2 linked regions of the Homo sapiens genome follow. The protein of the gene in region 2 interacts with the protein of the main gene of each other region in a pairwise test. Each region holds a gene or a part of one and is shown on either strand. Other genes may lie near its edges.

Evidence for each region. Proteins that work in one complex are often made in the same cells at the same time.
Region 1: the proteins of TTC12 (region 2) and PAK1 interact in binary tests that used the Homo sapiens proteins (3 or more experiments, as listed by UniProt).

The regions. Positions count from the first base shown.
Region 1 is NC_000011.10:77,321,517-77,324,094, forward strand, and holds the end of PAK1 (serine/threonine-protein kinase PAK 1), read right to left. Parts: intron 1,845-2,578; coding exon 1,758-1,844; 3' UTR 1,639-1,757; coding exon of another isoform or gene 1,621-1,638; 3' UTR 501-1,620; downstream 1-500. UniProt on the Homo sapiens protein: Protein kinase involved in intracellular signaling pathways downstream of integrins and receptor-type kinases that plays an important role in cytoskeleton dynamics, in cell adhesion, migration, proliferation, apoptosis, mitosis, and in vesicle-mediated transport processes.
Region 2 is NC_000011.10:113,359,583-113,363,082, reverse strand, and holds part of TTC12 (tetratricopeptide repeat protein 12), read right to left. Parts: intron 3,144-3,500; coding exon 3,075-3,143; intron 683-3,074; coding exon 581-682; intron 1-580. UniProt on the Homo sapiens protein: Cytoplasmic protein that plays a role in the proper assembly of dynein arm complexes in motile cilia in both respiratory cells and sperm flagella.

The sequences.
Region 1 (2,578 bases), about 36 Mb from region 2:
TGAGTGGAAACAATAACAGGCACAAAAGAATATATCTATTATGATATGTTTATTTAAAGTTCAAAAACTGGCCGAACTAAAATCTACTTGTATTGGAACACACCTGAATGTGATGAAAGTATACAGAAAAGCAAGAAAGTTATTTAAATAAAAGTCAAGATGGTGGTTACCTCTTAGGTGGGGGCTATAATGAGAAAGGAAGGACAAGATAGAGAAGGTTCTTACTGTCAGTGTTCCATTTCTTGATTTGGTGGATACAAGTGTGTTTATAATTATTCTTTAAACAATACAAATGGTTTTGGCCCATTTCTCTTAATTTATATTTAAAATAAAAGTGTTAAAAAGAAAGAATACACATTCAGGTATATAGTGGTAAAGGGGCATTCTATCTGCAACTTACCACTCTCAAATGGTTCAGGAAGAAACTACTCATTATTTCATATAAAAAATTAGAAAAGGAAAGAAAAAACGAAGAGAAAAAAGAAAGGCATACTCCAATAGAATATTTTCATCTCCTTTTATTGACAGAAATAGAAATTTGTGCTGCAGAGGCAGTAGTACCTCAGAGCATGAGAAGGTAGTCAATGGGGCTGACATGACAAGCCACAATGCTGGCCAGGGGTCCTACCATAGTGGGAGAACCAAAACCACAAAAATAGCAGGAGGTAGCAAACATCCCCAACACCCAGTGTAAGCATTTCCATTTGCAGAGAGCTTGGCCATGCATCTTAAAAACGGGGTCCCCTCACAGCTGGCAGGGTATCATGTCAGGCCACCAAATCCATCCAGAACTAACATGCAGTCTCTAATTTGGAGACTCTTTATTGTGACCAAAAGATTTGGACCATTAGAAGATCCAAGTTAATCTTTCAGCTCCTTATCCTAGGCAGAAAAAGGGGCTGAGTTCCTGAAACATCACACAAGTAGAGCTGGACAGGTGCTGATGCCCAGCCTTGCTCTAAAAGTAGTCACCATTTTCCCCGACTTCTCAACACTGCTCTCACTCAGTATGTGCCCTAGAAAACCTCTCAATGTTATAAACAAGGGACAGGATAGGGGCAGCAGCCTAGGGTATGCAGGGAATCAAAAGCTGCTACATAGCCGAGAGCATTTCACAAGAAACAGCATGGGAACACTATTGGGTCAAGGTCCTCCCGAACAGCTGCTAGAAGCACACACAAAGAAAAATGTGGTTGTTCTCCCATGTCAGGATCAGCTGAGCCAAAGTCATGGTCCAGGAAGCTGAGCCTCTTCATGTCCCTGGCAGATTATCAAACCCCATGGCATTCCCAAGCTGTTCCAGTTTTCAAGTACAATGAGGTGTCTGGGCAGTTGAGTCACAGAAAAGCAAGCACTAAAGAAATCTCAATTGATTACAAATTGATAATATTATCAAACCATAAATTTATATAGTCAAGAATTAATTGTGGGAGATGGTTATGAAGGAGGTGAGGATTTTGACACACGGAAGACTAGAAACATTTATTTATATAAACCCTTAATCATAAACCACCCTCATATCCATGAATTGGGAGGAAATTCCTTATTTAGAAATGGCCATCATCTGATTAGTCATTCAGTTGCAGTTCTCTTCAATGCTGGACACACGGTTTCCAAGGATCAAAGTCTTGAGGAGTGCTAGATCAGGAAATGGGAGAAGCAAGGCAAGGAGAAGAGGGCATCAGGAGTTGGAATTTCTGAAATGTGCATTTATCTCACAGAAGGCTTGGCACAATGAGGCTGGGGTGAGTGTGGTTTTAGTGATTGTTCTTTGTTGCCTCCTTAGCTGCAGCAATCAGTGGAGTGAGGCTGGAGAGGGGCTTGGCAATCTTCAGGAATTGATGCTAGAAAGGAGAAAAATAGCAAAAGACACATGACTATTTAACATTCTTCCCCAGTAACCATTACAAGACATAAAGGCATCTTTGTTTGTAAAGGGTGCTGTGTGGAAAGCTTCTGATCATCCCCAAATTGAAGGACATCTTAAAACAGACCACTTTGGAAAACTGTTTGGCAGCATCTACTTACAGATAAATACATCTACCTATACTCTAGTAATTCCAATCCTAGGTATATTCCCAAGAGAAATTAGTTTGTATAGCCACCAAAAGACATACACAGAAATGTTCATAAAAGATTTGCTTATAATAGCCAATAACCAGAAAGAACCCAAATGTCCAAGAGAATGGAAAAATGAATAGTGTTATATTCATATAATACTATACAGAAAATTACACAGCAATACAATAAGTAATTGGTACACTGACAAATGGGTTGAATCTCACAGACACATTAAGGGAAAGAAGCCAGACAAGCAAGTTCATATTGTATTATTCCATTTCTTCCGAGGTAAGCCTAACCATGGTGATAATCAGAATAATAATTACCTCTGGGGAAGGTATTAATAGATCATGACCCAGTAGTATATCGCAATACTGCATTTTAGGAGCATTGATCTAGGAATTTATTGTTCTATCCTCAAATCCAATAATGCTAATCATTCAGTAAAAAGTTCAGTAGCTTGGTCCTTTCCCAAATCACTTTCACTGGGCTGTACTTTGGGCCATACCTTCAACAT
Region 2 (3,500 bases):
GGGCACACACATCATAGGTGGGATTCTGAGATGGCAGCCTAGTGTATTAATCCCCTTCGCCCTTGCAGGTGAATCCAGATAACTGCTCTACTGGCTTGCTTAGATTCACCACACTCATCTCACAGGGAAATCCCAACATCCTTTGGTCACATGGTAATTCTGCAGGCTACATGTCTCATAGATGGAGTTCCATCCAACACTCTCCAGATAACTGTATAAAGCATCATGAGTAGCAAAACCTGAGCAGAACAATGTGCCTGAGAAACGTTACAGAAAGCCACTCAGATCATTTTTATCAAGAACAGTGGCCATATATTTTTAAGTCAGGCTTGAGGGGTAAGCAGGTTTTATAGATGTATCTAATGAACAATTTTCTTATTTATTCAACAATCTGTTGTTGATGTTCAGAGTATGGTCTGGGTAGACAGGCAGAAGCAAATCCCTATCCAAGAAGTTTAAAATCTAGCAAGGAAGAAATGGCAGCACATTAACCAAACAAAGCCCACCTTAATTCTGTTCCCCGAATAAAATAGGAGACTTCTGTACATTTCAGGGGTTGTAACCAATAAAGTGATCTTACCTTCAGGAATTTCATCATTTTCTTTACCACTCCTGCTCGCAAGGCCTCCTCAACAATTTTCAGAGAGGAAGAAAGGGTCCGGCTCAGAACACCAGCAGCTCTCTGAGTACAGCAGAAAGAGGATAATTAAATGTCCTTTTCAGAAATGCTGACAACCTTTAAAAGCTAACGGGGAGTTTGGTGAGGCAAAAGCAATCATTATATTGGAAGCAAAATATAAAAAATATGATGGCCAAATAATAGAAAGCACTGTTCTTTTTAATAAAGCTGTCAAGGAGCTGTAATCATAGCCCCTTGCCACCCAGAGGCCCATATTATTTCAGCTTCACACAGGATCAACCAGTTCCACTCTGAGAAAGGAAGTTCTCCCTTGTGATTCCTCCCAGAGCTCTGATATCAGCAGGCCCTTTATAAGGAGATGTTTGATTTCCTGGATTGGTCTTCTGTGTCATTTATCTTTATCTTTTCGAATCTTTGTCTTTTGTTCTAGTTTCTGGGATAGTTCATTTACTTTATTTCCCGGCTCTTCTTTCTTTTTTTTTTTTTTTAAATAAATGCCAAGCTGTTACTCTTTTATGGATATAACTATCTTAAATCTTTCTCAGGATACAAATGATAGTTACTATTTTTTTCTTCTGTTTCCTATATCATCTCTATTTCTTTTGGATCAATTTTTATGTTTATCTTGGTTTTCCTATTTATGTGTGTAGCTTTCCTGCAATGTCTGGTTGACCCTTTACCTGCCCAATCACATGTATGAAAAAAGCAAGAAAATATGTTTGGGCATGCTATGTTTATGGGAAGTTTATCAGAAGTATGGAAAGATATAGAGGTGGCACCCCCGTATACTAGAAAGAAAAATGTTTTCTCCAGTTTTTCAGTTCTTTAGAGATAAAAGTGTTCTGATTTTATGCCTGGAGGATAGATGCCTGCCAGCAAACGCAGCTCCACTGCCTTGTACTTCTGCTCTCTGTTGTATCGGGAGTTTTGAAATCTTCATCCTCTCCAGGGTATTATAAGGCAAACCTGCTACTGCCCAGCTACGTGTTCCTCCATTTGTACTCCATACAAAGGTTTCCTCAGCCCTGCCTCATTAATTACCACCCTTGCAGCTGTTCTCCATCTTCAGGAAACTTGTTAAAATTACTTACCTATTGGTAACCATTGCCTGTTCACTGTCAACGTAGGTCTCTACTTTTTTTGTTCCCCCCCAATGGCTTTAATCTCATTTTAATGAGGTCTCCAGAGGGAGAAAAGATAAACTTGTGTATTATCAATCTTGTTTCCCTAATCTGCTTCCTAAAGATCCTAGAATTTTGCTATAGTTGACACCACGGATCCCCTTTCAGGCCCAAGACAGTGGAGACTGTGCTAGACAAGGACCAGATGCCCATGGTGAAGCTGCTGCTCTGCTCAGCAAGCTGGGAAGCACCCAACGTGGCACACAAGGAATGCTGGGGAAATCTGGCCCAAGAGCTCTCCTAAAGGTTTACTCAGGCACTAGTGTAGGCTCACCTTTAGGTCTGGACCATCCGGAAACGGTGGTGCTTACCACTTTGGGGGTCATAGACCTCTTTTGAGGATCTGATGAAAGCTACGATGCCCCGTCTGTGAAAATGCACACGCACAAAACCTTTGCCCTATCCTGTCTGAATTGACTTTGGGGACGTTTAAAGAGTGCTACCCCCAAACAGGGTATGTTGGATCTACTCAGAACATTTTTTAAACTGTGGAGGCAGTCCTCAGTCTGCAACCCTTGAAAGGCTGGTTTCCCAGACCCACCCTAGATGTGGCCCTAATTGCTTCCCTAGCCATTAGGGTCCTGCCCTGACAGGGAGAAAAACGGGTGATCACTTAATGTGAGTGAAGAATACGTTCTAGGGTGATGGCAAATAGCCTCTTGAATCATACTAATATTCTTCTCCTGATGCACTGTGCTAACATATAGGCCTTTCTCAGTTTTCTTATTCAAATGTCAGACACAGAATTGAGAAAGCCATTTCAGCATATATTTTAAAAAGAGGGTAAAACTATTATGCACAAACAACCTCTAGGATCACTGGCTTAAAATATGGGCTTGGCTTTTTTTTTTTCTTATGGAAAAAAGGGATTCTAAATAAGTTGGACACTTGATCTGTCCAATTTGCACAGGATATTTTGAAATAGGACAGATCGGATCGATTATATCATCTAAGCTGGTTAAATTTCAGACCATACGGAAGGGGGATTCTTAAGTTGGGTTCCTGGACTCTAGGGGATCCACAGATGACGGACACAGCAAGGAGGTCACCAAATCTCTGAAACTGTAGACAAAACCTGGTATTTATGTGCTTGTGTACATTATTCTGAATAGTATATCCACACCATATCTCAGAGTCAGCAGATTCTCAAAGGTGGCAACTTCAAAAAGATTACACTGATAATAAAACAAAACAAAACAAAACAAAACAAGAACAATGGAAGCTGCTTCTGGATTTCCCTGGGAGAAACTTACTGTCAGGATTCCTCCATCCTGGCTGTTTAGTAAAGACAGGCACCTTCTGCTCACCTCCACAGCCCAAACCTACAACAATGGGGAGAGGCCAGCAGGAGATTTTAATTTTCTGACAATCTGAATTCTCAGCGGAGCTTCTTCTGAGCACCGTCTCCTTTTTAGCACCACCACACTATGCCCAGGTTCCCTCACAACACCATCTTTTACTGCTTTTATTCCTCCCCATGTCTGTCTCCCCTAACTCCAGGGCATTACCCTGATAGCAGGAACCGCCTTTTATTTGACTTTGTAAATGCAGCACCTCATACTCTGCTCAGCACACCTTGGATACCCAGTCTGTTTTCTGAGTGAATACATGACTGAGTGGTGATCCATCCATCCCTCAGCAGAGCAAAGGGAGAGCGCATCCCTCCAGCCTTTTCCCAT